6 separate regions of the Homo sapiens genome follow, and all the other regions are linked to region 3. Evidence: fine-mapped expression QTL. A gene starts in region 3. Each other region holds a variant in brackets. All regions are shown on one strand. Distances are between the middles of the regions.

Evidence for each region. PIP is the estimated chance that this variant, and not a neighbour inherited with it, causes the effect.
Region 1: its variant is fine-mapped to the expression of CCDC18-AS1 in whole blood (TOPMed, PIP above 0.99).
Region 2: its variant is fine-mapped to the expression of CCDC18-AS1 in whole blood (TOPMed, PIP above 0.99).
Region 4: its variant is fine-mapped to the expression of CCDC18-AS1 in aorta (GTEx, PIP above 0.99). The same link has a PIP of 0.9 or more in testis.
Region 5: its variant is fine-mapped to the expression of CCDC18-AS1 in whole blood (TOPMed, PIP above 0.99).
Region 6: its variant is fine-mapped to the expression of CCDC18-AS1 in sun-exposed skin (GTEx, PIP 0.92).

The regions. Positions count from the first base shown.
Region 1 is chr1:93,256,220-93,261,458 of GRCh38, reverse strand. CCDC18 (coiled-coil domain containing 18) reads right to left here. Exons shown (of 29, transcript NM_001378204.1): 25 at 4,921-5,124; 26 at 2,574-2,711. Among named protein-coding and RNA genes, the nearest start is that of CCDC18, 78 kb to the right of the region's middle. The variant A/G (reference allele first, on the strand shown) is at 2,017.
Region 2 is chr1:93,070,905-93,076,143 of GRCh38, reverse strand. No RefSeq gene overlaps it. Among named protein-coding and RNA genes, the nearest start is that of MTF2, 5.8 kb to the left of the region's middle. The variant G/T (reference allele first, on the strand shown) is at 2,982.
Region 3 is chr1:93,343,363-93,348,601 of GRCh38, reverse strand. CCDC18-AS1 (CCDC18 antisense RNA 1) reads left to right here and starts at 2,791. Exons shown (of 9, transcript NR_034089.1): 1 at 2,791-2,878. It overlaps DR1 (down-regulator of transcription 1), which reads right to left and starts at 2,695. Exons shown (of 3, transcript NM_001938.3): 1 at 1,737-2,695. The coding sequence starts at 1,956. RefSeq lists enhancers at 1,856-2,065, 2,126-2,195, 2,565-3,100.
Region 4 is chr1:93,390,844-93,396,082 of GRCh38, reverse strand. No RefSeq gene overlaps it. Among named protein-coding and RNA genes, the nearest start is that of DR1, 48 kb to the right of the region's middle. The variant G/T (reference allele first, on the strand shown) is at 2,759.
Region 5 is chr1:93,321,883-93,327,121 of GRCh38, reverse strand. CCDC18-AS1 (CCDC18 antisense RNA 1) reads left to right here. Exons shown (of 9, transcript NR_034089.1): 6 at 460-520; 7 at 1,227-1,353; 8 at 2,393-2,487. Among named protein-coding and RNA genes, the nearest start is that of CCDC18-AS1, 21 kb to the left of the region's middle. The variant C/T (reference allele first, on the strand shown) is at 2,436.
Region 6 is chr1:93,189,674-93,194,912 of GRCh38, reverse strand. It overlaps CCDC18 (coiled-coil domain containing 18), which reads right to left. Exons shown (of 29, transcript NM_001378204.1): 5 at 2,807-2,913; 6 at 1,169-1,297. It also overlaps the pseudogene RPL36AP11. Among named protein-coding and RNA genes, the nearest start is that of CCDC18, 12 kb to the right of the region's middle. The variant C/T (reference allele first, on the strand shown) is at 2,637.

The DNA of each region.
Region 1 (5,239 bases), 87 kb after region 3:
GCATTCCTTTTCATTCTCAAAAGTATTCTCTTTTAGATAAAGAAAATGGTCAATGTATTTATGGATGAAATAAATTGGCTATGCATTGAAAATTATTAACGTTCAAAAATAAATATGAGGATGTATATACTATTTATACTATTCTATTTTTAAATATATTTAAATTTTTCACAATTAAAGGTTAAAACAATCTCATTCTCCTCCAATAAGTCAGGAGTTTTACATTTATTATTAAGTGATTTTCTGACAATTTGGAAACCTATATATTAAAAAATACTGTTGATCTCGAACTGGAAATACCATTTGACCCAGCCATCCCATTACTGGGTATATACCCAAAGGATTATAAATCATTCTACTATAAAGACACATGCACATGTATGTTTATTGCAGCACTATTCACAATAACAAAGACTTGGAACCAACCCAAATGTCCATCAATAATAGACTGGATAAAGAAAATGTGGCACATATACACCATGGAATACTATGCAGCCATAAAAAAGGATGAGTTCACGTCCTTTGCAGGGACATGGATGAAGCTGGAAACCATCATTCTCAGCAAATTATCACAAGAACAGAAAACCAAACACCGCATGTTCTCACTCATAAGTGGGAGTTAAACAATGAGAACACATAGACCTAGGGAGGGGAACATCACACATCGGGGCCTGTTGGGTGGTGGGGGATTAGAGGAGGGATAACATTAGGAGAAATACCTAATGTAGGTGACAGGTTGATGGGTACAGCAAACCACCATGGCATGTGTATACCTATGTAACAAAACTGCATGTTCTGCACACGTACCCCAGAACTTAATGTATTAAAAAAAAAAGAAAGTATAATAAAAAAAACTGTTAAAAATTATTGATCCTCTTTTCTAGCTCTCTATTACTTTAATACCATATCCTCTCATTTTTATATTCAAACAACATATATATTTTAAAAGTAAATTTTTATCAACTTCCAAACAGGTAAAAATATATACTTCAATATTATAGACAAAATATTAGTATCAAATATTAAATAGTAATATTAAATATTAAAATGCAGCAGCATGTACTTATTTTTTTTGAGACGGAGTTTCACTCTTGTCACGCAGACTTGACTGCAATGGCGCGATCTTGGCTTACTGCAACCTCTGCCTCCCAGGTTCAAGCAATTCTGCTGCCTTAGCCTCCTGAGTAGCTGGGATTATAGGCATGCGCCACCACACCCAGCTAATTTTTGTATTTTTAGTAGAGACGGGGTTTTGCCATGTTGGTCAGGCTGGTCTCGAACTCCTGACCTCAAGAGATCCACCTGCCTTGGCCTCCCAAAGCACTGGGATTACAGGTGTGAGCCACTGCGCCCGGCTGGCGTGTGCTTTTACTCCCAGCTACTTAGAGGCTGAGTGGGGAGGGTTATCTGAGCTCTGGAATTTGAGGCCAGTCTGAGCAACACAGACCCCATCACTTTTTTAAAAAGATAGCAATACTGAACTAATTTTACAATTTATTTTATGTACAATCTATTTATAATTTCAGGTGGCTTATAAAACTAAAAGAAACAATTGGATAATTATACTTAAAAACAGAACAGAGGCCATATAATGAAAGTGTAATGAGTAGTTAAGGGCAAACACTTGAAAGCGCCTAATTATTACTGATAGTTACTAAGCTGAGCTGTTAATAACAATTATATAATTATGCTGAGTCCAACAGCATTCATTCAGGTTTGTCGCTAAAGATCAAAGGTTGCAAATTCTTAGCCTTAGGATTAGATTCAGCTTGTAAATATGTTTTGTTTGGCAGGCACAATGCTTTCAAAGAGATATGATTCTAAATGTATTTAAGCAAGACATGGTCCCCACAAGCCCTACCAATCACTCACAAAAATGTCACCAAACTCCCTTGAATGGAGTTTAACATAAATATTTGCAACCCTTGCCGTATTAGAAAAAACGCTTTATTAGCACTAAACGTAAGTAATTTATTTAAATCATATACAGAGATTTTGGGTAATATCTTTAAATGT[A/G]GTTTTTAAAAAGATGAAAAATGCTATTCTAGTCAATAATACTGCCCATTTCTGTGAAGGCTCAAGACATGCTGACAGATAAAAAGGCTCTAGTATTATCTCTCTAGCTAAGTTATTATAAGAAGAAATGCTGAAAATTGCAAAGCATTATAGATTTACATCACATGAAACGGTTTATATCAGTTATTAAATATTTCCAGTTAATCTTTTACAAATGCTATTTTATATTATATATTAATTCATTTAATATTCACCACAGTTCTATGAGGTAGATACTATTATTATATCCATTTTAGACACAGGTTAAGTAACTTACCCAAGGTGATACAGGTGGCTCCGTGGTGAGCTAGGGTTTAGAACCAGGTTGCCTGGCTCAGGAATTCAAGCTCTTAACCCCACAGTATATTAAAGTGAAAGCTGTATGTTTAGGCTACCAGAAATGAAGACCACAATGTATTATTCAATAATGAACACTTAAGAGCTGGACTCATACTTTTGTCCAGATAGGTCAACCTACTTTAGTGGGCACTAACAAAACAAATTAAATTTTTCTTTACCTCCATATGATAAGCTTCTTTGAGAGATTCTACTTCTGCTGACAATTTCTTGATTTCTGCTTGCATTCTTGCTTCTAAATGAGCTTCACGTACTTTAGAAGCCCCCAGTTCTTCAGCTAAATGGTTTCCATGAGCATCCTTAAAAATGACATATTGAGTAAAAGCTATAAAACTTGTTTATTTGGTTATTATAGCTAAACTAATCCAGTGCATTATTGGAAGTAGTTTAATTTTTTATATTATATAAACACAGACACAAAGTTAACTTACTAAATAGTATGCTTTAAAATCTAGACATTTCAGAGACTATTAATGGGAGAGTATTAATATAATTGTTTGCTGTCATCATAAAATAGATGTTCACTAACCAATGCTTTCTATAAAATGAACTATTAATAATAACCTCAGGACACTGAACTCTGGCAGATAACAGTCTACTGCTAGGTATGCCTGTATATTTTTGCTCACTATATATATTGTCTGTTTATCAAGAGTCAGTTGTGTTTTTATTCAAACTTATTTATGCTAATTTAGCTAACTGTGCTTGTAATTTTAATTGTGTAATTTTATTATAGATTATGAACATGATGAAATAAGCAAATGCAAAGTTTTTATCCAAAAACTAAGTTATATGTTTTGAACCAGCTTAATAAGTAAGTCATGAACATTTTGCTATCCAATTAGAAACACTCAAAATTGTTATAAAATATGGTAGGAGGTCCCATAAAAATATAACATGGTTCACTTACAAATGTCTTTTAATTAATTATTATTAATTAATTTTTATTAATTTAATTTTAATTAATTTAATTATTTTAATTTTAATTAATGTCTTTTAATTAATTCTTCCTCCACTTTAAAGAAAGCAGAATTGGAAACTATAGATGATGGAATATAGTGTGGTGAAAGACCAGGTAGGAGTCTAGTTATGTGAGAAAGACTAGGTAGAATTCTAATCAAATGACTCATACAAAAAGAACCAAGGTTTGGCCCTACATCAAAGGAAAAACATATCAATATATATTTAGTTTTGGGTTAAAATAAGTATTTAAAACACTGTCAATTAAAAAATTCCTAACTTTAATTCACTTTTTAAAGTGAGCTTAGCTTATCAAATAAAAACCAATTGTACTATACTTTGACACTATTGATAAAGGCAGAAATGAGATAAAAGTAGATAGCTTTCCTTTTCCTAGAACCCCAAATGTATAATATATCTCTAATAAACATTCTCTATGTATGCTTTACTGGTCTAACCATCCAGAAATGTGAATAACAACATAGGTAGGCTTAACCAAAATTAAAGGTAAAAATATTTTAATTCAGTTCCTATGGAATTGAATTAAACCATGGAAACCACAATGGAAAGCTGAATTTTTTTTTTTTGCAACATCAATAAACACATTTTTCTTAAAGTCTAAATAATTAACCCAAGTATACCAATGTAAATATTTTTAAGCCAAGTAGTTAACTTCCTACCAAATACTGGAAAAATAAAATTTATATTAGTATTTTTGCTTTTTAAAAGCACTTTACCTCCAAGTTACTTTATCAACCAAGGGTTTTGAACTACAGGTTTCCTAAAAGTTACAAATTTAATAGTTACAAATTTGGATAGTTTTCATGTTTTTTTTTTTTTTTTTTTTTTTTTTTTGAGATGGAGTCTTGCTCTGTCGCCCAGGCTGGGGTGCAGTGGCACGACTTCAGCTCACTGCAACTTCTGCCTTCGGGATTCAAGCGATTCCCCAGCCTTAGCCTCCCGAGTAGCTGGGACTATAGGTGCCCACCATCATGCCTGGCTAATTTTGTTTTTTGTATTTTTAGTAGAGATGGTGTTTCACCATATTGGCCAGGCTGGTCTCAAACTCCTGACTTACTTATCCGCCTGCCTCGGCCTCCCAAAGTACTGGGATTACAGGTATGAGCCACCGTGCCAAGCCAATAGTTTTCATTTTTAAGAGTCACTACAAATGTAAAAATTTTTACTCAAAAAAGATTAGCTTTATTTTTTCTTCAAGTAAGAGCTCGAACTCACTTAAAAGTCTAAAAGTGCTTTATAACTCAATTTGAGAACTAGTTTAGCCAAAACTCAGTTCTGAAGGACTTCCTGGTTATATTACAAAGTTATCTATATATAACACAGTTCATTATTTTCTAAAATTGTGGTAAAATACACACAAAATTGACCATTTTAACCATTTTTAAGTGTATAATTCGGTGGGATTAAGTACATTCACACTGTTGTGCAATACAGTTCATTTTTGAAAGAACTATATTCTACAGTTCAAAAAAAATGCTAATATTTGTAAGATTTCAGATACATAAGATTATTTAAAATAGGGATTACTTTCTCTTTAGAGAGTTGCTTCATATCCTCCAGTTCACTAGAGAGCCTTTCTATTTCTCTCTGTGCTTGGACTTGCTGATGACGAGCCTCTGCCAATTCTGTATGAGAGTTCTGCACCTGCTCCCGGGTCAGCCTCAATTCTTGCCCCAAATCTATGGCCTCCTTGTACTGAGTGGCAATGTACTGTTCTTGCTCTTTCATAACCTGAAAAGCATAAGGTATTTGTAGGTTTCAGAATGAAATATATAGATAACCTATTTCTTATTCTGATTTTGCTTAATACGTAAATTTCCACCTTCCAACTAAATCCTTTAACATA
Region 2 (5,239 bases), 270 kb after region 3:
AAGGACATTTATGTTGTTTTCAATCTGGGGCTATTATAAATAAGACTGCTATGAACATTTGTGTACAAATCTTTGTATGGACATTCGTTTTTTATTTTTCTTGAGTAGATCCCTAGAAGTGGAATTACAGAGTTGTATGATAAGTTTATGTTTAACATTTTAAGATACTGCCAAACTGTTTTCCAAAGTGTAAGCAATATGTAAGCCTTCCAGTTTCCCAATATCCTCACTGATACTTGTCTATCTTTCTGATTTCACTCATAACAGTAGGGATTGCTAGGCATGGTGGCTCACACCTGTAATCCTAGCACTTTGGGAGGCCAAGGCTGGAGGATTGCTTGAGCCCAGAAGTTTGAGACCAGCCAGGGCAATACAGTGAAACCTTGTCTCTAAAAAAATAATAATTTTTTTTTTTTTTAGATGGAGTCTCTCTCTGTCACCCAGGCTGGAGTGCAGTGGCACAATCTTGGCTTACTGCAACCTCTGCCTCCTGAGTTCAAGCGATTCTCCTGCCTCAGCCTCCTGAATAGCTGGGATTACAGGCACGTGCCACCACGCCCGGCTAATTTTTGTATTTTTAGTAGAGACTGGGTTTCACCATGTTGGTCAGGCTGGTCTCAAATTCCTGACCTTGTGATCTGCCTGCCTCGGCCTCCCAAAGTGCTGGGATTACAGGCATGAGCCACTGCACCTGGCCAAAAAAAAAAAAAAAATTATTATAATAATTTAAAACAGTGGGAGTGAAGTGGTTCATTGTGGTTTCCCTAATGGCTAGTGCTATTGAGCATCTTTGGTTTGTTAGCCATTCTTATATCTTCTTTAGTGAAGTGCCTACTCAAATATTTTATGTATTTTTTAACTGGACAATCTTCTTATATCAACTTGTAAGAGTTCTTTATATATTCTAGATTTAGGTTCTTTAACAGAAGCATGATTTGCAAATATTGTCTTCCTGTCTATGACTTTATGACTTGTCTTTTCATTTTTCATAATGATGTCTTTTCTTTTTCCCCCAGAAACAAGGTCTCACTCTGTTGCCCAGCCTGGAGTGTAGTGGCACTGATCATAGCCCACCATAACCTCAAACTCCTAGGCTCAAGCAATCCTCCCATATTAGCTTCTCAAGTAGCTGAGACTACAGGTGCACACCACCACTCCCAGCTAATTTTGTTTTAATTCTTTTAGAGATGGGATCTCTATATGTAGCCCAGGCTGGCCTGGAACTCTTGGCCTCAAGCCATCCTCCCACCTCAGCCTCTCAAGTAACTGGGATTACAGGTGCAAGCCACCCTTGCCAGGGCTTAATGTATTTTGAAGGGAAAAAAATTTATTTTAAGTTCAATGAAATCCTATTTATCTTTTTTTAAATACCATATGCTTTTGGTGTTATAACTAAGAATTATTTTACCAAAGTCTATTTTCTATTATGTTTTCTTCAGAAGTTTATAGGTTTAGCTCTTATATGTAAGTCTATGATCCATTTCGAGTTATTTTTTGTGCACAGTGTGAGAGGTATAGGTCTGTATTAATCTTCTTGTGGCTGGGTGTGGTGGCTTCTGCCTGTAATCCCAACACTTTGAGAGGCTGAGGTGGGAGGATTGCTTGAGCCCAGGAGTTTGAGACCACCCTGGGCAACATGGCAAAACCCTGTCGCTACAAAAAATACAAAAAAAAAAAATTAACTGGGCATGGTGGTGTGCACTTGTAGTCCCAGGTACTTTGGAGGCTGAGGTGGGAGGATCAATTAAGCCTGGGAGGTTGAGGCTGCAGTGAGCTGTGATCTTGCCACTGAGCAGTAGCCTGGGCAACAAAGCAAGACCCTGTCTCAAAAAAAATTTTTTTTTTGCATGTGAATGTTCAAATGGTGAAACAAACTTTTGTTGTATTAGCCACTGCAGTTTGGAGTTGTCTGCTACCCAGCATATTTTAGCCTACTCTGACTGATACAATCTAGATTTGTTAATACAGGCATACCTGTATTAATCTGCAGGATCGGTAGCAGACCACCACAAAAAGCAAATAGTCACATGAATTTTTTTGGTTTCTCAGTACATATAAAAGTCATGTTTACACTATACTGTAGTCTATTAAGTGTTCAATAGCATTATTTCTTTAAACAAATCTTAATTTAAAAATACTTTATTGCTAAAAAAAAATGTTAAAAATTATCTGAGCCTTCAGCAAGTCATAGTCTTTTTGCTGATGGAGGGTCTTGCTTCCATGTTGACGGCTGCTGACTGATCAGGGTGGTGATTGCTAAAGGTTTGTGGGGTGGCTGTGGCAATTTCTTAAAACAAGACAACAATGAAGTGTGCTACATCGATTGACTGTTCCTTTCACAAAAGATTACTTGGTAGCATATGATGCTGTTTGATAGCATTTTACTCACAGTAGAACTTTCAAAAATTGGCTGGGTCAGGTGGCTCACACCTGTAATCCCAGCACTTTGGAAGGTTGAGGCAAAAGGGTTACTTAAGTCCAGGAGTTCCAGACCAGCCTAGGTACCATGGCGAGACCCCTTCACTACAAAAAATAAAAATAATAAAAATAAATTAGCTAGGCATGGTGTTACATGTCAGTAGTCCCAGATACTTGGGAGACTGAGGAGGGAAGATGGCTTGAGCCTGGGAGGTCAAGGCTGCAGTGAGTTGTGTTCATGCCACTGCACTCCAGCCTGGAGTGAGACTTTTTTTTTTTTTTTTTTTGAGGCGGAGTTTCGCTCTTGTTTCCCAGGCTGGAGTGCAATGGTGTGATCTTGGCTCATTGCAACCCCCGCCTCCTGGGTTCAAGCAATTATACTGCTTCAGCCTCCCTAGTACCTGGGATTACAGGTGCCTACCACCACACCCAGCTAATTTTTTGTATTTTTAGTAGAGACAGCATTTCATTATGTTGGCCAGGCTGGTCTCGAACTCCTGACCTCAGGCGATCCACCCACCTCAGCCTCCCAGAGTGATGGGATTACAGGCATGAGCCACCAT[G/T]CCCGGCTGACCCTGTCTCAAAAAAAAAAAAAAAAAAAAATTGGAGTCAATCCTCTCAAACCCTGCTGCTTTATCATCTAAGTTTATATAATATTCCAAATCCTTTCTCATAATTTATTTATTTATTTTTTTGAGATGGACTCTCACTCTGTCACCTAGACTGGAGTGCAATGGCCCAATCTCCACTCACTGCAACCTCTGCCTCCCAGGTTCAAGCGATTCTCCTGCCTCAGCCTCCTGAGTAGCTGGGATTACAGGCACGTGCCACCATGCCTGGCTAATTTTTGTATTTTTAGTAGAGACGGGGTTTCACCATGTTAGCCAGGCTGGTCTTCAACTCCTGACCTCAAGTGATCCACCCACCTCAGCCTCCCATAGTGCTGGGATTACAGGTGTGAGGCACCATGCCCAGCCTGTCATTTCAACAATGTTCACAGCATCTTCACTGGAGTAGGTTTCATCTCAAGAAACCACTTTCCTTAGAACAGTGATTGCCAAGGGCTGGGGGAGGGGATGTGTTAGCCCATTCTCACGTTGCCATAAAGATCTACCTGAGACTGTGTAATTTATAAAGAAAAGAGGTTTAATTGACTCACAGTTCCACAGGCTATATGTGAAGCATGGCTAGGGAGGCCTCAGGAATTATGGTGAAAGGTGAAAGGGAGGTAAGCACATCCTCACAAGGCCAGCAGGGGATAGAGAGAGAGAGCCAGAGGGAAGGTGCTACATACTTTTAAACAATCAGATCTTGTGAGAACTCACTATCATGAGAACAGCAAGGGGGAAATCTGCCCCCATGATCCAATCATCTCCCACCAGGCCCCTCCCCCAACACTGGGGATGACAATTCAACATGAAATTTGAGTGGGGACCCAGAGCCAAATCATATCGGGAAGGATAAGAAGTGAGTAACAGCTTAATGGGTATGGGGTTTCCCTTTGGTGTAATGAAAATGTTTTGGAACTAGATAGAGGAGATGATTGCACAAGTGTGAATGTACTAAATGCCATTGAACTATTCACCTTAAAATGGTTACTTTTATGTTACCTGGATTTTACTTCAATTTTTAAAATACTTGAAAAGAAAAAAGAAACCACTTTCTTTGCTCATTCATGAGAAGCAACTCCTCATCTGTTCAAGTTTGATCATAAGATTGTAGCAATTAAGGCATATCTTCAGCCTCCACTTCTAATTCTAGTTCTCTTGCTCTTTCTACCACATCTGCAGTGACTTCCTCCACTGAAGGACTCCCTCCAAGTCATCCATGAAATTTAGGATCAACTTCTTCCAAACTCCTGTTAATGTTGATATTTTGACCTCCTCCCATGAATCGTGAATATTCTTTTTTATTTGTTATTTTTTATTTATTTATTTTATTTTTTTGAGAAGAAGTCTTGCTCTGTCGCCCAGGCTGAAGTGCAGTGGCGCAATCTCGGCTCACTGCAAGCTCTGCCTCCCGGGTTCACGCCATTCTCCTGCCTCAGCCTCCCAAGTAGCTGGGACTACAGGCGCCCACTGCCACGCCTGGCTAATTTTTGTATTTTTAGTAGAGACGGGGTTTCACTGTGTTAGCCAGGATGGTCTCGATCTCTTGACCTCATGATCCGCCCACCTTGGCCTCCCAAAGTGCTGGAATTACAGGTGTGAACCACTGCGCCCAGCTGAATCGTGAATATTCTTAATGGCATCTAGAATGGTGAATCCTTTCCAGGTGGTTTTCAATTTACTTTGCCCAGATACATCAGAGGAAACACTATCTAAGGTAGCCATCACCTTACAAAATGTATTTCTTAAATAATAAGACTTGAAAGTCAAAATTAATCCTTGATTCACAGCTGCTGAATGGATGTTGTGTTAGCAGGCATGAAAACAACATTCATCTCCTTGTACAACATTCATCTTCATCAGAGCTCCTGGGCAACTAGGTGCATTGTCAATGAACAGTAATATTTTGAAAGAAATCTTTTTCTCTGAGCAGTAGGTCTCAACAGTGGGCTTAAAATATTCAGTAAACCATGCTATAATCAGATGCGCGGTTGTCTGCTTTGTTGTTCCATTGGTAGAGCACAGGTAGGGTAGATTTAATATAATTCTTAAGGACCCTTTGATGTTCAGATGGCAAATGAGCATTGGCTTCAACTTAAGGTCACCAGCTGCATTAGGCCCTAAGAAGAGAGTCATCCTGTCCTTTGAAGCCTAGAAGCCAGGCATTGACTTCTCTCTAGCTATGAAGGCCTAAGCTGGCATCTTCTTCCAAC
Region 3 (5,239 bases):
TTGCTACAGCTGCACTTCTATTCCATCATGTCAATCAGAAATCTAAATATATCCTAGAAAAGAATCAACTCTCCCCAAGAAGACAGACTGTAATGTGTTATTAGGTTTTTGGAACGATCCCCACTTCTGTAGTGTAAACAAATGTTTAGGCAGACCCTGCTGAAATCTTTTGCAATTTTCATTAGAAAGGCAATGTTGATAAAGGTTCTTTTTCCTTTTTAAGAGTTGTAAAAAGAAATTATAGCTATCTGTGCTGGATAATCTTGTGAAAGACTTATGACAGCAATCACACATACAATGTAAAAATAAATACACAAGGGAAAAAATAGACAACTTGGCTTTCATTTTACTTGCTAGAGTATTCAGCACACCAAACAAGTAGAAAAAAAAAAAACTAGTACTAGTTTTAAGAATCAAATATGCTTTTTCCTAGGGATTTTTCTGCTTGTGTACTGAAATGGCAGGATATATTTTAAAACTACTTTCAAGACGTCATAAAGGATTAAAAATGAATCATTTAATCCTTTTGTCAATACTGAGAGTAAAATATTGGATATGGTCAATATAAGCAGATGTGTTCTCTACTTCAGTACAACAGGAAAGTCACATTTTAAAAAGTTAAATTATAAAAATTAAGTGATAGACAACCACCTGCCTATCAAAATGATTAAAATTAATCATTTTTCCCTGATTTCACAAGCAATCAATAACTTTAATTAGATTATTACAAAAGGCAAGTTCTCACCTCAAATTGAGTACAACTCTTTCACAAGAGTACATGTAAAAATATCGCAAAAGGTACGTTCCCGAAACATTATGAATAGTAAATATGTTTCTCCTCTCTGAAACCACCAGAATACAGTCCCCCAAATCCCTATTACGGGACCAAATCCTTTCCAGGATAAAAGAAACTGTTGAAGTTTTCAGAAGTGCTGTTCCATAAAAGCCTAAGTGTATACATTCAAATAGGAATGACAGCAGGAAAGGACGGGGAAATTTTCCGTTAAAAAAAAAACTTGCATAAACTTTCAATCAAAGATTTCAAAACTTATCTCCACAGAATAGAACAAAGCAAACGACATAAAAGCAAACGAAAAGAAAAAAACGAAAATTTAAAGTTCACCCTATTCTTACAGAATGGAACAGGAGTTATTTGGTAACTCATTCATGAACGTACCATCAAACCATTTTTAGAGCAGAAAACATACACCTTTTATTTAACAACGATAAACTTGACAACGTTGAACACATTGTATGTTAAGAATTTTTTAACTCATGTGTTCAGAAAATAAATCTTTTCCTCTACATTGGTGAAAGGTCAGGTGGGGAAGGGGGTGCTCTGTCTCCACCCACGTTGAAGTTCCTCCGTCTGAATTTTAACTTTCCAAAGGAGAATTTCTGCGTTCCTTAATTATTATCTAAGTTCAACTTCAGGCAAGTAATTCTTGTTGCTTCGGCTTACCTGGCTGTAAAGTGAGATCACTCTTATTCTTTACGTTTTGGGGACGCTGACCTAAATGTTTGCACTCCTTACATGTATTCGCTGGATGAAAAGTACTGCAAAAATGCTACAAAGGGATTGTTTTTAAAGCACCGGCTGCCTACATGCCAGTCTGGCTTTTTCATTAAGTTACTTACCAGGGAAGAGGAATGGAGGCTTTGACACGAAAGGGTCACGCGATTAGCAGACTGCTACCCTAGAACCTCATTCAAACCAGCTCTCACACACGACTTACCTTGTATGACATGCTCTGGTGAGATGGTCTTCTTTTCCGATTTGTTACAAATCTCATTGGCTTCAGAAGATATAAGGTGAATGAATTCAGTGCAGCAGTTCACCACCAGCTCTCGAGCATCGTTGGCCACCCGGACATTAGGAAGAGTCTCTTTGATCATTTTATTGATAGCAGCTCTGGGGATAGTGAGATCATCATCGTTGCCAGACGAGGAAGCCATAGTACCTTCCTGTTTCTCGCGCCCCGGCTTTTAAAAACTCCCCAGCTCTGGTCCACTACTCCACCGAGATTTCTCAAAAAGTCGCCCTCGGAGAGTGATCCCGGGGGGTGCTTTGCGAAGAGGGTGCAGAAAATGAACGGAGGAGCAGCTGGCTTGAGGGCTGGGAACACTCGCGTGTGTGAGAGATTTAGGATGAGTTTGGGAAGAAAGTGGGGGCCCGAGGATTCTAGAGAGAGCACAGCCCAGGCTGAGGAGGGGAAAGCGCGGTGGTCCGGAAATTTGAGCGGCTGGGGAACCACCTTCGTGTCTCCTCAGAGGGGCGGGCGCTGTCGCCTAACTGGTCCCCAACGGCGTCGGAGCAGAGGCAAGATCCAGGGGCACTGGCCTCGCCGCGGTACCGGGCGGGTACCCAGCGGGCTCGGCTCTATAGAGCCCGAGGCCCCGCTGCCGCTGCCGCCGCCGCCAGCAGCCGTTGCCGCCGCCTCGGCCAAACCATCCTTCAGACACCCGCGCCGCCGCCTCACAACATGTCCGCCGCTGCCGCTGCCGCTGCCGCTGCTGGAACGGCGACGGCCGCCTGGGAACTAATATGGACAGAGCCAGGCACAGTGGGAGTCGCAGTGGCTGCCGCCGTGGCCGCGTAGCCCGAACGCAGATCGTGGAAGCCGAAGACGCGGCAACGGTGGTCCCTCCAGATGCCAGGGAAGGTTTGCAGGAAGCCGCTCCCGACACCCTTTGCGCCACCGGAAGCCTCGTTCCCTCAGATTTCCCCCTCCCTCCCGGACCGACTTCCGGGTGTGGCTGCCGCCCTTCCCCCACCCACGCCGGCGGGAGCCGCCCGTTCGCGCTGCCAGCAGCTTCCGCCTGCTACGGTCCTGGCAAGCACCTCGGGATCCCATTCCTTCACAGGGACCCTAGCCAGGCAAGCGCGCGCCTCACTGTACCGGAGAGCTCCAAGCACGCGCTTGGTCTGGGGCCCGGACGCTACATCTGGGAAGGGGTGGGTGGCTGGGTAGATAGGCGAGGAAGGATCGTCTCTACCCTCTCTCAAGTAGCTGAGGCCTCCGAAACCTTCCCTAGCTGGATTTGGGGACAGAGGAGCGCTGGTATTGATAAAATAACTCTCTTTGCTATTCCTTTAGGAGCCCAAATGAGGATTGAAAGTGAGAAGAATGGGACCTGGGCTTGGGGGTGGGAGGTGGGGAAAGCAGAACCCCGTGTGCCTGTTTCTGCGTCGTCTGGAGAAAAAGCTTTTCAAGATGTCTGATAGACCTTATTCGGTTCAAAGCTCTCTAAAGTCCTTCACCTTTTTTTTTTTAAACTTCATGAAAAATGAAACATTTCAGAGAAGTTACTTGCCTAGAGGCAACTAAGTCGCCTAATGGCTAAGTAGGAAAGCAGAAGTCAGTTCCAACATAGTGGAAATGGAGTGGAAATGCATGGCATACAATGAGCTATATTAGAAGGTTCCCATTTAGACAGTTTTCATGTTGTATTCCATGTTGGCTTCTACAGGGGAAAAAAGTGTTAGAGCATCTTAAGCAACTGTTTTTACTTCTTTCCATAGTGACTAGTAATATCAACAGGTGTCAAGGTCTAAACAGAAATTGCATTTAAAAAAAAAAAAAGTGTGTCAGCCAGGCGTTGTGGCTCATCATACCTGTAAACCCAACACTTTGGGAGGCTGAGGCAGGGGGATCACATGAGCCCAGGAGTTCAAGACCCGCCTGGGCAACATAGTGAGACCCGTCCCTACAAAAAAAAAAAATATATATATATATATATATAATATATATTTATATATATAAATATATATTCCAACATCCCACTGTTTATAGTATAGCCTCTTCTATATGACAATATGAAACACGGGTTTTTTTTTCACCAGGCTTGGTGGCAGGCACCCGTAGTCCCGGCTACTCTGGAGGGCGAGGTGGGAGGATCGATTGAGCCAGGGGGTCAAGGCTGCAGTGAGTTGCGGTTGTGCCACTGCACTTCCAGCCTGGGTGACAGAACAAGATTCTTTGTCTCAAAAAAGATAAAAAAAAAAAAAAAGTAAAAAAACTGAGTCTGTCATACTGTCATGTGGAAGAAGAGGCTATACTATAAATAGTGGGATGTTGGAATTTCTAAAAACTAAACAAGACACTGTTGAAATCCATTTTGTCACTTTGGTTCATCAGATTCATTACTCTTGATACATATGATGGCAACTGGCTTGTTGACAGTGTTTTCTTAAAACGTTCTGTCTGAGCCCTATATGCTGCTCTCAAGAAGACATTACAGTTTATTATGCTATTTTTTCATTTAGCATTTTCTGCAGGACAACTTACTGGTTCTTTAATTTCTGAAGTGTAGACACTTGTTTTTCAGTGCTACTAAATTTAGTCAAAACAAAATTTCTTTGATTAAAAACAGTATTTTAATTAAATTTTCTTCAGGCTGGGCATGGTGGCTCATGCTTGTAATACCAGCACTTTTGAGAGGCCAAGGGGGGCGGATCACTTAAGCTCAGGAGTTCGAGACCAGCCTGGCCAACATGGTGAAACCTCACCTCTTCTAAAAATACAAAAATTAGCTGGGTGTGGTGGTGGGCACCTGTAATCCCAGTTACTTGGGAGGCTGAGACAGGAGAATCGCTTGAACTCTGGAGGCAAAACTTGTAGTGAGCCAAGATCGTACCACTACACTCCAGCCTGGGAGACAGAGCACGACTCTATCTCAAAAAAAAAAAAATACTTTATGAAGTGGTGGGTTTGTTTTTTTTTGTCAGTTTACTGTTGATTTAAAGATTTATTATGGTGCCTAAATTTATCTTGACCTTAACAAGTTTATCCGTCTGAAAAAGCTGGCTGGCAAAAAATGTCCCAAGTTGTCACAGTGTCACTGACCCTTATCTTGTCTCTCCTGAAAAAACTATAACTTTGCTTTTTCATGTAACATTTATGTTTATAGACTTATGCTAAATAGACGAGTAGAGCACACATTATTTCAGTAATAGTTTATTGCTACAGGCTTCTGTGGTAGCATAAACAGAATTGAATGTGTAGTAAGAGTTGTAGGTTCCAGTCCCAGCTTTTTTTTTTACTTAGACAAGTCACTCTCCAAGCCTCATTTTCTTCAGTTCAGATATAGAAATATTATGTAACACACAGGATTCAAAATCAAATGAGAGTTGTGTGAAAGTACTTTTTATAGTATGAAGTGTTATATAATGTTAGTGTCTTTTATCATCTTTATCAGGCTTGGTCAGTCTTCAACTAGTAATGAACCATGTAACTAG
Region 4 (5,239 bases), 47 kb before region 3:
ATTCTCTTTGTGCTGTGAGATATAAATGTGCTACACTGTTTTCTCTAAAAAAAAACAAAACAAAACAAAAAACAAAACAAAAAAAACCCTTATAAGGGCTTTGAATATGTGGGACAGATAAACTTTAACTCGTTCCATTTACAATGACAGAGTTTGAATTCAACTGCCCTTTATGTGAGTTTTACCTGTCTTATTGCTAAAATTTTTAAATCAATGCTATAAAATCTTTACTTATGTTTGTCTGTATTTTATGCATACATGTGTACATGGCTGCCTTTTTATATTATCTACATGGTACCAAATTGACTTTTAAATAAATGAGTGTTCATAAATTAAATAATCAGCCAAAATGCTTTTCAAGTTCATGTCAATTTAGTAATATCTGGCAAAGAAAAACTAGTTTTTAAATTGTCGGCAAGGCCAAGTGCAGTGGTTCACGCCTGTAATCCCAGCACTTTGGAAGGCCAAGGCAGCAGGACTGCTTGAGCTCAGGAGTTCGAGACAAGCCTGGGCAACACAGGGAGGCCTTGTCTTTACAAAAAGTAAGAAACAAAAATTAGCTGGGTATGGAAGCACATGCCTGTAGTCCCAGCTACTTGGGGAGCTGAGGTGGGAGGATTGCTTGAGTCTAGGAGGTGAGGTTTCAGTGAGCCATGATTGGGCAACAGAGCAAGACCTCATCTCTGCAAAAAAAAAAGTATAAATTAGCCAAGCACAGTGGAATGTGCCTGTAGTCCTAGCTATTCAGGAGGTTGTAAGGTGGAAAGATTGCTTGAGCTCAAGAGATCAAGGTTACAGTGAGCTATAATCATACCACTGTACTCCAGCCTGAGTGATAGAGTGAGACTCTTGTCTCTAAAAAAATTAAAATAAATAAAATTTGCTTTTCTCTTTTGAAAAAGATTTTTGCGTAGTATTAATGAGTAAAAAAAAAAATTGTTGCTCATTTTTCGTAAATTGCAAAAAAGTGGGCACACAGTAAGAGAAGGACAGATAGACTCTGTTTGCCTCCAGCTGTCTTTATTAGGCCTTTTGATAGTTTAGAAAACTGAGTCCCCTCTCTAACATAAAGAAAAGATTTTTGCTTTTTGAATTATTTTAATTATCAGTTTTGCTAAATGAATGACCTATGATCCTATTTCTGTTCCAGTGTTTTAAATCTTTGACATATTTGACAGGCTTTCTAAAATCAAATTTCAAATTCTAAATTAAGTCTTTTTGACTTCAAGCTAACTTTTGGACACTCCAGAAGGGTCCCTGGAAGTACAAGAGAGACATATTAGGCTTATTTGGTATGTTAAAATCATGCAGGAAGGATTGTGAAATAAGAAATAATGTTTAGCCTTTTGCGAGTCATATTTGTATAAATGTGTTAGTATGTGTTCCAAAATGGAATGAGATTCTTAAAAATCTGGTATGTCCTGGTATGTGTTATTAGTCACAATTATGGATATTGTGTAAAGTTGTAGGCCACAAAAAAAATGACCAAATTTCCTTGTCAATTGCATCTTTAATCATGGTTACTTTAAGTCTTATTGTCCGCAATTAAGCATCTGTGGCTTTATGCTTATGCTCTTGTTTTCTGAAAGTTCTTTTTTCTGTTCCCCAGGCGGGAGTGCAACAGCGTGATCTCGGCTCACTGCAACCTCCGCCTCCCAGGTGCAAGTGATTCTAGTGCCTCAGCCTCCTGAGTAGCTGGGACTATAGGTGTGTGCCACCACACCCAACTAATTTTCTGTATTTTTAGTACAGACGGGGGTTTCGCCATGTTGGCCGGGCTGGTCTCAAACTCCTGACCTCAGGTGATCCGCCTGCCTCAGCCTCTCTCTTTATAAGTTTTAAAGTTTTGTCTTTAAGGAAATTCATGGAAAAGACTACAACAAATAATCTTGAATACATGTTTCTGATGACTTTAAGACTGAATCATGTCTGTAGTCCCAGCACTTTGGGAGGCCAAGATGGGAGGATCGCTTGAGGCCCAGAGTTCAAGACCAGCCTGAGCAACATAGCGAGACTTCATCTCTATTTTAAAAATTTGTTTTTTCTTTTTTTTTTTTAACAGCAAGCTCATCCTTTAAAAAATTTTTTAAAGAAATCAAGATTGAATCATTAGATGGGGTAAAACAATTTTGGAACACTAATAGAACAAAAGTGGACTCATAAAATTGCTAATGTATAATCACACGGAACAATACTTAAGTACATGAGACTGAACTGATGAAAAACTGAAATTGTTTTTTAACCATAACTTTTTATTTGAAACATTGCTGATTCTTTTTTCCCCAGAGTAAACATTTTTCTTTTAAGCTATTTATAGCTTACACCAATTAAGTAAAGTATACTTTTGTGAGCCAAATTCAAATATTTACCTCTTTATTTGATCCCTCCAAAATTTAGAAACTATTTGCAAGTAGTGTTATTTTATGACAATATAATTATTTGCATAGATTCGTAAGAATTTGTTTTCTTTTGTAATAGTACACAATTTGAAATGCTGATTACTGAGGATTAGACTGGAATGTCGTATTTTTAGAAATGACTAGACTGTTTTGAGGAATTGAGGTTCACTTTAGAAAGCCAATAGACTTGGAAAAAGACTGACCTGGTACCTTGTCTACACAGTTCCCTTACAAGGTCCCTGACCTTGAAGTAAGTAAAGAATCTCACTTTTGGACAGACCCAGGAACCTCAATGTATTTTGAGGACCTTGAGAAGAAAGGTATTCACCGAAGTTTTCGTACAGGTATTATAGTGTTTG[G/T]CTTGGCTCCTAAGCTTTTTTACTTTTTTTAAATTTTTTTATTTTTATTATTATTATTTTTTTGGTGGAGATGGTGTTTCGCCATGTTGCCCAGGCTGATCTCTAGCTTCTGAGCTCCAGCAATCCACCCACCTCGGTCTCCCAAAGTGCTGGGATTACAGGCATGAACCATCACACTCAGCTCTGGCTCCTAAGCTTTTAGAAAGTCTAATCTGAGATTTTTTATGAAAATGTTCCAACAAACCAACTTAAAAGAGCCTGTGTGATAAATCACTATTCTTACTTACTTTATGCAAATAATCAGGCCAGGTATAAGACTAAAACATAATTTTACAAATAGATTGGTCTTTCTATGATTTATCTTTGTTAGAAGTAGGGAACTAAAGAGAGAAAAACTATGTTTCAGAAGAAAACTTTCATGTACCTGTTATAAATTCCTAACCCTGTCCATTGTTTTGGGGATTTTATTATTTTCCTTGCAGGAAATCCCGAATCCTGAATTCTTTCCTGGCTATAAGTCTCCAAACTAATGTTTCTAAATTTTTCTTCCATTTTTCTGACTTGGACTCACTAAAATTGAAACTCTCTTTATCCTGAAGTTCTATGAGCTGAAGCTCATGTATAAACAACCTTGCGACACACCAACTATAAACCAGAAAAGTCTGTCAGATTGCTACTGCCTGCTTGCTATAACTAAAGATGTTTCAAACCCAAATCTCAATGGACTGCCCTCACAAAAAATACATTTTTTTTTTTGCAGTTTAGATACTAACTTTAAAAGTAGACCTGTGACTTTGCTCTTTTTATTTTACAAAAAATGAATCTAAGTATTTTAGAAATTTTATATCCATCATAGAATTACAGATCAACTAGCTGTTTACCAAACCCACTTACTCTTCTTCATGGATGAAAAGCATCCCTTGAAATTAGGTGTGGCTGTGTAGAATGAATTCAGAGCAACAGAATGTGAGTGAAAGTAACTTATGCTACTCCTGATCAGGCCCATAAAAACTACCCATGCACGATCTGCATGCTGCTCTCTCTCTCTCTCTTTCCCCTTCTACCAGCTAGATGTTGATTGACTACATTAGCAAAGATAGTTTGCTCCAACCACTGCCTTCCAATCTCCCATTAACATCTGTCTCCCTGATAACCATTAAATTTTTACGTGAGTAAGAAATTTCTACTTTTCTTCTTTATTAGTCTTGCTAGCGGTCTATCAATTTTGTTGATCTTTTCTAAACACCAGCTCCTGGATTCATTGATTTTTTTAAGGGTTTTCTGTGTCTCTATCTCCTTCAGTTCTGTCGTGATCTTAGTTATTTCTTGCCTTCTGCTAGCTTTTGAATGTGTTTGCTCTTGCTTCTCTAGCTCTTTTAATTATGATGGTAGGGTGTCAATTTTAGATCTTTCCTGCTTTCTCTTAGGGCATTTAGTGCTATAAATTTCCCTCTACACACTGCTTTGAATGTGTCCCAGAGATTCTGGTATGTTGTGTCTTTGTTCTCGTTGGTTTCAAAGAACATCTTTATTTCTGCCTTCATTTCGTTATGTACCCAGTAGTCATTCAGGAGCAGGTTGTTCAGTTTCCATGTAGTCGAGTGGTTTTGAGTGAGTTTCTTAATCCTCAGTTCTAGTTTGATTGCACTGTGGTCTGAGAGACAGTTTGTTATAATTTCTGTTCTTTTACATTTGCTGAGGAGTGCTTTACTTCCAACTACGTGGTCAATTTTGGAATAAGTGTGATGTGGTGCTGAGAAGAATGTATATTCTGTTGATTTGGGGTGGAGAGTTCTGTAGAAGTCTATTAGGTCAGCTTGGTGCAGAGCTAAGTTCAATTCCTGGATATCCTTGTTAACTTTCTGTCTCGTTGATCTGTCTAATGTTGACAGTGGGGTGTTAAAGTCTCCCGGTACTATTGTGTGGGAGTCTAAGTCTCTTTGTAGGCCTCTAAGGACTTGCTGTATGAATCTGGGTGCTCCTGTATTGGGTGCATATATACTTAGGACAGTTAGTTCTTCTTGTTGAATTGATCCCTTTACCATTATGTAATGGCCTTTTTGTCTCTTTGGATCTTTGTTTTATCAGAGACTAGGATTGCAACCCCTGCTTTTTTTTGTTTTCCATTTGGTTGGTAGATCTTCCTCCATCCCTTTATTTTGAGCCTTTATTTTGAGCCTTTTTGTCTCTTTGGATCTTTGTTTTATCAGAGACTAGGATCGCAACCCCTGCTTTTTTTTGTTTTCCATTTGGCTGGTAGATCTTCCTCCATCCCTTTATTTTGAGCCTATGTGTGTCTCTGCATTTGAGATGGGTCTCTTGAATACAGCACAATGATGGGTCTTGACTCTTTATCCAATTTGCCAGTCTGTGTCTTTTAATTGGAGCATTTAGCCCATTTACATTTAAGGTTAATATTGTTATGTGTGAATCAAATAGACATAATAAAAAATGATGAAGGGGATATCAGCACTGATTCCA
Region 5 (5,239 bases), 21 kb after region 3:
ATCTATATTTCATCTTTTCTTTTTTAAGAACCTACCAAATTTTATTGTGATTGCTTATTTAAGAGAGTAAGCTGTGTAAGGTCAGGGACTATGTCTATCTGGCTTACGTTTGTATTTCTTTTTTTTTTTTCTTTTGAGACAGAGTCTCCCTCTGTCACCCAAGCTGGAGTGCAGTGGCGCCATCTCGGCTCACTGCAACCTCCACCTCCCGGGTTCAAGTGATTCTCCTGCCTCAGCCTCCTGAGTAGCTGGGACTACAGGCGTGTGCCACCACGCCTGGCTAATTTTTTTTGTATTTTTATTAGAGACTGGGTTTCATCATGTTAGCCAGGATGGTCTCCATCTCCTGACCTCGTGATCCACCCACGCCCAGCCTGTAAGATTTTTAAAAATATATTTATACATCATGTAATTTCAAGTACTCAAACTTTGTTTATGCTCTTCTCTTTCCCTAAATAGAATTTCCTTTCATCTCTGGTAAAAGTCAGCTCTCTAACTACTGCATCTCACAGCTGAACAGGTAAACATGTTCACTGGACCTGCTTTAAATACATATCCCTTAATGCTGCCCATAGCCAGACTATGTTTCCTTAGTCCATTCACTCTTCCACTACCTCTTGCCTTTTCTTTTCTCAAGCCTTCAATACCTCCTCCCTCATCCTCATTCTCAGCAGATGATCTTGTTTCCTATTTCACTGTAAAAGGAGAAGCCATGGGCTGGGCGCGGTGGCTCATTCCTGAAATCCCAGCACTTTGGGAGGCTGAGGCGGGTGGATCACCTGAGGCCGGGAGTTCAAGACCAGCCTGACCAACATGAAGAAACCCCATCGCTACTAAAAATACAAAATTAGCCGGGTGTGGTGGCACATGCCTGTAATCCCAGCTACTCGGGAGGCTGAGGCAGGAGAATCTCTTGAACCCAGGAGGCAGAGGTTGCGGTGAGCCGAGATCGCACCATTACACTCCAGCCTGGGCAACAAGAGGGAAACTCCATCTCAAAAAGGAAAAAAAAAAAAAAAAAAAGAAGCGATAAGAAGGAAATTGGCACAAAAAGGATAGCCCATCATGTTCTTTTTGGGCCTAATTCTCTTCACCCATTTCCCCTGTTCCCCAACTTTTACTAGACCCCAGGCCATTTTGGTACTAATCTGTTGGGCCAAAGGAAAAAAGTAATGGAGAACTAATGAAAATAATAATGTGTTTGTTGTATTTGTAATGTATTTCAGATAACTGATACCGTGCTTCCAGAAGATTTTTCTAACAGTGTTTGCAAGCTATAAAATAGTGCTTTCACTTAGAAAAGGCTAGACGTGGTGGTTCATGCCTGTAATCCCAGCACTTTGAGAGGCCGAGGTGAGTGAATCACTTGAGATCAGGAGTCTGAGACCAGCCTGGCCAACATGGCAAAACCCTGCCTCTACTAAAAATATAAAAATTAGCCAGGCATGCTGGCACATGCCTGTAATCCCAGCTACTTGGGAGGCTGAGGCAGGAGAATTGCTTGAACCTAGGAGGCGGAGGTTGCAGTGAGCCGAGATCTTGCCACTGCACTCCAGCCTGGGCAACTCCATCTCAAAAAAAAAAGAAAGAAAGAAAGAATTACCATTCTCATTCACCTTAATCCATAATAGCTTCAGAGCCCTGACTAAGAGGGCTCTGAGGTCAACCCAAATCCTCTCCTAGGACTACCAAATAGTCTCCTTTCTAAGATAAGATATTATATTAATGCTCATTTAGGCAGTGGCTTTCAGACTTTTGTTGTTTATTTCCCACAGTAAGAAATATATTTTGCATCTATAGCAAGACAGTTCAAACACATACAGTCACATTTATGACTGAAACGAAAGTTCATGAGACCATAGTTATCTTTATGATACGCAATGATGAGTCAAAGCTTATAATTTAGAAAATACTACATTAAAGAATTGTTAGAGGGAGCATAGGCTGGGCGCGGTGGCTCATGCCTCTAATAGACAAAATCTTTACGATTCCACAAATAGCTAGATGAACATTAGTTTGGAAACTACTCAACTATAACTCTCCACCCTCCACATACACACAAAAAGGAGTGCCCACATGCATGATTAAGCTGCTTGGCTATGAATAAATGACTCATATGACTGTTTGTCTAAGTGGTAAAAAGCAAAGCTGATGTAGGAACAAGTAAGGTAAAATCAATTAGGGAAAGGGAACAGCTCCTCCCTATTGTTCTTTTTTGTTCTCCACCAGCATAAACACTGCTATCCAAGTAGCCTCTGCATTACAGAGGGCTGAAAATTAAGCCCTGAATTGGGGAAAGGGACTAGATGGATTCGATGGTTTCTAAGTTACTTTTAAATCCTAAAACTTTATTCTCTTAATAAACATTTACTGATTGCTTAATACGTACCAGGCACCATGCTGGGAGATAAGGATCCAACATAAGACAAACAGTG[C/T]TGATGCTTTTGGAAAGCTCATATTCAAGCTGGGGAGACAAACAACATACAAGTAAGTAAATACAATGAAATTAATGTTGTGAAGGAAGTAACAAAGTCCAATGATAGGGAATAATAGGGGTAACCTACTACTATTCTTATCTATTATTATTATTAATTACTACCATTACGATTATGGTAGGAGTTTGACTCTATGCTGTGTCAAATGGGCAGCCATCAAAAGGATTTAAACAAGGAAGTGACATGACTTAGTTTTAAAAGAGCACTATATTGTGTGGAGAATGTGTTGGGAGGTGGAAAGAATACAAGTAGGAAAATTATTTTAGGAGTCTAGGCAAGACATGATAGGGGCTTGGATTATGGTGGTGACAAACTAAAATCCTGTTTTGTTTGCAATTAATAGACAATGAAAAAGTATTTTTGAATACTGATTTGAAAATCTTACTTATTTTGCCTCCAAAGCATACATTTTTTTTTTCTGTCTTTGCTAAATCATTTAAATCCAAGGGTTCCAAACTTTTTTTTTTTCTGCACACAGTATGCTAGTGGTGGTTGCTTTTAATATTCCAGAGCTCTGTAGTCAAGATCTTGAGTGTAGGAGTTGGTTGGGGTGGAAGGACTGTAATAAGTTGAGACTAGTGGAAAGAAGAAGCTGGTGCCAAGTTGCTGTGCAGAACAGGGCATAGGTGCATACTATAGTTCCTTGGGAATTCTATGAAGCTTGGGACAGTGTTGAAGATTCTGTATGGACAAGGCCCACCTTAGTCAAATAGGGGAAAAGAAAGATATATAAACTACAAGTTCACTTTGGAAAGGCAGAGATATCAGAATAAGAGAGTATTATTTGCATGAGGGTCTCAAAGCTTCTTGGAAGAAATGATACAAGAATTTGGAGTGATGATTATTACCCTAGAATACCATGATTATATTTCCTAAACCAAATAAGAAGAGACTTTTTCCAGCCATTTTGAGGGAAAGTGAATGGGGCTGCCTGGGAGGGCAGGAAATTCATCTAAGGTAGCAGAAAACTAAGATTTGTGGCTAGTGTTAGGACAGCAGCTGTCTGCATGTGATGAATTATTTGTTATGATACAGTTCAACGTTTCTCTGGCCTAGTCTCTGAGAAAACTTAAGTCTTTAATAAAGAACTGAAGAAAAGCTTAAAGAAAAAGACTGCCTCTTGGAGGATTAAATTGAGTTAGCCTAAGGGCCAGCTTTCAGCTCAGAGAGCTGTTACAAGCACCAGAAGGAAGGAGGTAGGAATCCCTCTCCCTACCCCACCCCTATCAACTTTGAGTAGAGCCCCAGCAGGAGCAGGGGGAGAACTAGTGCAGAGTCCTGGCTGGAGCCTTGGCAGAAGGGTGAGAAAGCTCCCAGGGCTGGGAGGCCACTCGGGACCCATGAAAATGGGAGAAACCTCACACGTTGGTTGTCCTTATAAAGAAAGGACAGGGTGGGAACTTGTTATCCATGTACCCAAAATCCCCAAGTGTGGCCTCAGAAAATAAAGGTTACATTGGGTGGGTTGGTGTAACAATTGCTGTATCCCAAAACAAGCTGTAGAATCTTTGGAGATTCACAAGAATTAATTAAACCGATATTAGTCTAGAAATGGTTTACATCCAGATTCTGCTTGGATCCGAGAAAACAGTTTCCCTAAACTTCCAGCCCCCAGTTTGCGAGAGAACAGTCACAGACACACATTCGGACTGATACTGTGTTCTTTCCTCCTACACATGTAGTTGAACAAATGCGGAAAACTCTAAAAATAAGTTCTCTAATCAAGATTCCAGATCGGGAGCAGGCTAAAAGAGGTCTGAGCAATGTTTTCATTTCTTAATGCTCTTGGTGGGTTCTTGGTGAGAGGCTTATTCTTAAAAAGCCCATTTGTAGGCTAGGAGCAAAGACGCTACAGGAATTTACCTGGTTGCTGACCAGTTACCAATGCATGTCCATGTCCATTCTGGTTCTTAAGCCACACTTGTAAACAGCATATAGACTTTTGTAAAAAGGCAAGTCAAAAGCTTTCATGAAGATATTGACATGCTATATCATGTATAAACATATTTGGCTCTTTGAAATGTCTCAGGAATGAATCATACATGTCGCTTTCCACTTTTGGAATAGACTAAAACTGGTTCAGCATGTCCAGCAGGTTAGTCTGGCTTCCAAAAGTTGTTTGGCTATGTATTTGGCTAATGCGAAAGTAATTGCGGTTTTTGCCATTGCTTTCAATGCCATTACTTTTGCACCAACCTAATATATTTGTGCATTTCTTTAAGGAAAATAATTAACCATGCTCTTACCTGCCAGAAGTAGTTCTTAGCTTAATTGCTATTTTCATCACCTTCATAAATTCACATCTAGTTCACAGCAACATTCTAGAGGAATGGTATATGTCAGCCAATAAAAACCACCTCATTAGAAAGTGTTAAAAAAGTCATTTTAAGAAACACCATTCAAAATTTGAGTACGAAAATTAATTTTGCAGCACAGATATACGTTGAGTAGAACTTACTGTTCAAATATAGAAAATGACCAATACATATAAGAAAAATATACTTATTTAATTCCTAAAAAACACATAGATTTTGCTGATAGGAAAAAGAGAAGCAGGGATATAAAGGCATAAATTGCATGCTTTCAAAACACACAGGCTGTATTGATGAGAAACAGAGATGTGTGGACATGGATGCGTGAAAGGACTCACTAAGGCTATAATGAAGGGCCATGAGGAAAGAAAGCATTGACATTTGTTCTTTCCTGGACCTTGACCTTGTGTTATCAGGACCAGATATAGCAGA
Region 6 (5,239 bases), 150 kb after region 3:
CGAGACAGAGTAAGACTCCATCTCAAACAACAACAACAACAACAAAGTCAATACTCTATCCTAAAAGTCATCTCTTATCTAAGTTGCATAGAGGAAACTAGTAGCTCTTCCTCTTTATTTTTTCTTGGCAGCTATATTGTGAATGTGGTCTTCATGTATTATTATCTCACTATTTTAACTAACCACGTGCAAAGCTTATCTGAGTAAGTGAAGTGTGAATTCTAGAGTATTTAACCACAAAGTTTATAAAATAGTTAAATTGTTAGTATTTTTTAAGAGGTACATTTCTTTTTTTCATTTACTCTTCATTTCTATCCATATCAAGATAATATCATCTTTATTTAACAGATGAAAAAAACCTGAGATTTCAAAAGGTTATATCATTTGGCCAAGGTAACAAAGCCAATGAGAGGTAAAATCTAAAAATTTTCTAACTCCAAAACCTACGCATTTTCTACTAAGCAATATTGCAAATTGCAAAATTGCAAAATTGCAAAATTGCTTAGTACAGATTATGACTTTATACTGTATAACAACTGCTATAATCCTATTTTATTATAAAATCTTATTAGTTTAAACTCAAAAAATTTAAATCTTTATCAGTTTAAAAGTGAACTGGCATTCAGAGTTAATGGTTCCTTGGACAGAGCTACTTAAAAGACTTGATCTCAAGATATAATTTATACAAAATAGATATTTTTGTACTATTTATATATTTCTAAAGGAAGATCCAAGCACACATTCACAGGCATTGAGTTTCTTTCTCTATGAGGCAAAATTTTCTTTTAAAGAGTTCATTCAACATTTTATTTAGTTTTATTAGAGGTAATATTAATTTACAGGCTTTTTCCCTGTTAGTATTTTAAACTCAGTGTACTGGTTTCAAATAGGCCATAGAACTTAATTTCAGAAATAAGTATCATTAAACTGATAATCGTTATCAGTTTTGTAGAAATTAAGCCCAATCCAGGATGCTAATAACATAAATTCCACATATAAACATTTTAATGGAAAATTTAAAAAAATTAATAGATAAAAAAGAACATTAAGTTAATTTATTGCCAAATCTCTGAAATTTTTTCACTTCAAAAATTAACTAGAATTTTAAATAGGTAATATTTCCTTTTATTCCCTTTCAAAAACATGTATTTGCTTTAAAAACACATACCTTTTTCCTTGTTTGGTTTGTTCAAGTAAGTCCACCTTTAATTTTATACATTCCTCTTTGGACTCCTGCAAACTCTGTTCCTTTTCAATTACCATTTTCTGGCTCTGTTCCAGCTTATTTTCTGCCTCTCTATAAAATAAAGGATACTTTGTTTAAGACTACTAAAGAGATTATCCCAGGTATGCAAGAATAATTTAATATTAGGAATTATATTTGTTTAAATCAATGAGTTAAGAGAAACAATATACAAAAAGAGATAGAGAAAAAGGCATATTCATCACTTGTTAATTAAGAGTTTTTTAAAGAATAAAAGAATACTTCCACCAGATGATAAATATATCTGAAGTAATAACTCACATCGTATTTTATAGTCAGATACCAGAAGCATTCCTGTATAGTTCAGAAACTAAATAAAGATGACTGTTATCACCCCCACATCCAACAACTTTTCTGACAGTTCTACCCACTGCAAAAAGCAAATATGAAAAGGTAATAAGTAGTATAAATGCTGAAAAGGAAAGACAAAATTTTTTTTCTTTCTTTCTTTTTCCTACTCTTTGACTCAGAAACAAAATTTTTTTTATTTGCTGATAATACCATTAGCTACCAATTACAAAATAATTATATTATACAAAAGTCGGTAACCTTCCCATACACTAGCAATGAACAAAGTAGGAACAATTCACAATTGCCAAAAATATAAAATACCTACAAATTTAAAATAATATATGTATTACAAAGAAAATTACAAAACTCTGATGGACATAAAAGACAACTTCAGTGTGCAGCAGCATCATTTGCAGAACTTGTGAAACCCCTCCCAACTTGGTTCAGTATGCCAGAGATAAGACCTGAGAATTTGCATTTCTAACAAGTTCCCAGGTGATGCTACTACTGCTGGTCCTTTAACTATACTTTCGGAATCACTCAGAGTAATATGTTATTTAATATGCATATATTTCCCATTTTATTCAAAGCAGAAGAGAATAAATTATAAAGTGCCTGATGGCAAGGCATGGCAGCTCATGCCTGCAATCCCAACACTTTGGGAGGCCGAGGCAGGACGACTGCTTGAGGCCAGGAGTTTGAGACCAGCCTGACCAACATAGTGAGACCCTGTCTCTACAAAATAAAAAATAAAAAGCTTAGCTGGGCACAGTGGGTGCGTGCCTGTAGTCCCACCTCCTTGGGAGGCTGAGGCAGAATGATCACTTGAACCCAGGAGGCTGAGGCTGCAGTGAGCCATACTGTACCACTGCACTCCAGCCTAGGTGACGCAGTGAGACCCTTTCTGTAAAAATAATAAAAGTGTCTGACTCCTTTACATTTTATTTCTTGAACTCCCTTTGAAACACTGAGTATATACTTCTATGTAGGTGAAGAAATGAACTAATTCATGTTTGATAAAAGCATGTAAATAGGCATCTCACCTTAGTCTTTTTAGCCCCTATATACTACATGCAACCTA[C/T]AGCCAAGAGGAGTTATGATTGACTAAAAATAGATTCAACAAGTTCTAAGACAGCTGAACACCATTAGGTTACTGTAAATTTATTGGGTGTGGGGAACAAGATTTAACAAGATATAATAAAATGTATAAGTAGAAAATAAAACTTTGAGAGCTATAAAAAGTATATTTACCTCAAAACTTTATCTTGAGCTGAAACCTCTGCTTCCAAATTTATAATCTGTTCTTCTAAGATTGGGACACTGGCTGCCTGCTGTTGAGCAGACTCAAGCATAGAAACCTAAAACATAAAAACAACTTTTATAGTACTTTCAGAAAATAAATTAACCTACTTGGTCCTTAGTTTTTTTCCTGTCAGATGAGGGTGTTCAATAGGGCTCCCAAATCATTGGTCAGATATAAAGCTTCCCATCTATTCCTTTGATCAACATTTACATGGGCATATCATCATTATAAGCCAGCCTTGGCATGTAAGCTCCTGGCATTACCTTCAACTTATAACTGAAGAGTTATTTAGGGGAGAAAATAGAATCTCTATTGATAAGCATCTAGCAAGATTTATTTTACATAAATTAGAAAATTAAACATAAAATATCAAACTATAAACAATTATAAAAGAAAATATTTATTGAATTTTTATGATTTAAAAACCTAATTATAGAATACATGCTTACTAGGAAGAATCTAAATACAGAAAAGCATAATAACCCTACAATCTGTATAATAAAGAGAGTACAACTACTATAGCAGGGTGGGAACCCACAATCTAAATGGTATAGAAGAGAGTATCAATAAGATAACTATCACTGAAAAAGAAGTTTAGAACATGAAGGCACAAGGTACTGTAGAGGGCAGAAGTGAGGACCCAATGAAAAACCAGGGATACAGTTCAAAGTATCTGCAAGTAACAGTCATCCTCTTTTTCCCACTCCCAGAACACCAATAGCAAGGTGTTGGCATACTAGGAAAGAGGCAGAAAGTTTATTATCAGAAGAAACTGAACAGAAGAAGCTTGAGACTGTGAGACACTAAGAGTAATGAGCAGGAATGAAGTACAGCTGTAACAAGGGAATTAATATAAAACGGTTAGCCCCACCTTACTACTCAATTTCATTTTGGGTTATCCCACAGGTGAGAAACTAAAGGATTCTTTGCTGGAGAAACTCAATTGCTCCAAAAAAAAAAAAAAAATCTCCTTGCTGATAGCACTCCCGCAAACATGGTGAACATTCCTAAAACCTGCAGGACTTTCTGTAAGAAGTGTGGCAAGCACCAACCCTAGAAAGTGACACAGTACAAGAAGGGCAAGGATTCTCTGTATGCCCAGGGAAAGTGTCGATATGACAGGAAGCAGAGTGGTTATGGTGGGCAGACTAAGTAGATTTTCCAGAAAAAGGCTGAAACTACAAAGAAGATTGTGCTAAGGCTTGAGTGCACTGAGCCCAACTGCAGATCTAAGAGAATGCTGAGTATTAAAAGATGCAAGCTTTCTCAACTGGGAGGAGGTAAGAGCAGAAAGAGCCAAGTGACCCAGTTCTAAGTGTTATCTTTTGTTTTATTATGAAGACAATAAAATCTTGAGTTTATGTTAAAAAAAAAAAAAGGGAAAGAAAAACATCTCATACTGATACTGTTTGGGGGCTGGCAGGTGTTTCCCTACAAAAGAACCACCTCCCTAACCATCACCCAGAAATAAAGTCCACTGGACAACAAACCACCAATCTGCATTTAAATGCCTTTCTCTTAAATATGAATAGCTAAAATACTAACACCTGAAAAAATCTTCTTTTTTTTGAGATGGAGTCTCACTCTGTCACCAGGCTGGAGTGCAGTGGCGCGATCTCGGCTCACTGCAACCTCCGCCTCTGGGTTCAAGCAATTCTCCTGCCTCAGCCTCCCGAGTAGTTGGGACTACAGGCACACATCACCACGCCCAGCTAATTTTTGTATTTTTAGTAGAGACGGGGTTTCACCATGTTGGCCAGGATGGTCTCGATCTCTTAACCTCGTGATCTGCCCACCTCAGATTCCCAAAGTTCTGGAATTACAGGCGTGAGCCGCCGTGCCCGGCCCAAAAGCTTCTAACATAAAAGTCAGAGGCCTAAACAAAAGAAAAAGGAAAGTAAAGCAAACATGAAAAAAAAATCATTAAATCTTCAGAGTGCTAAGAGAGAATACTACATTAGTATGTTATGAAATACAAAACAATCGGAACAAAAAAAAACTTCAGAAACCGAAAAAAGTATGACAGCCAAAATAAAAGATTTAATAGAAGTGCAAAAAATAATGTTGAGAATACCTCCTAAATAAAAATCACAGGGCCAGGCGCGGTAGCTCAATCCTGTCATCCCAGCACTTTGGGAGGTGGGTGGATCGCTTGAGTCCAGGAGTTCAAAATCAGCCTGGGCAACATGGCAAAACTCCATCTCTACAAAAAGACAATACAAAAACTAGCCAGGCATGGTGGCACGTGCCTGTAGTCCCAGCTACTTGGGAGGTTAAGGTGGGAGGATCACTTGTGCCCAGGAGGTCAAGGTTGCACTGAGCTGTGATTGCACCATTGCACTTCAGCCTGGGCAGCAGAGCAAGACCTTGTCTCAAAAAAA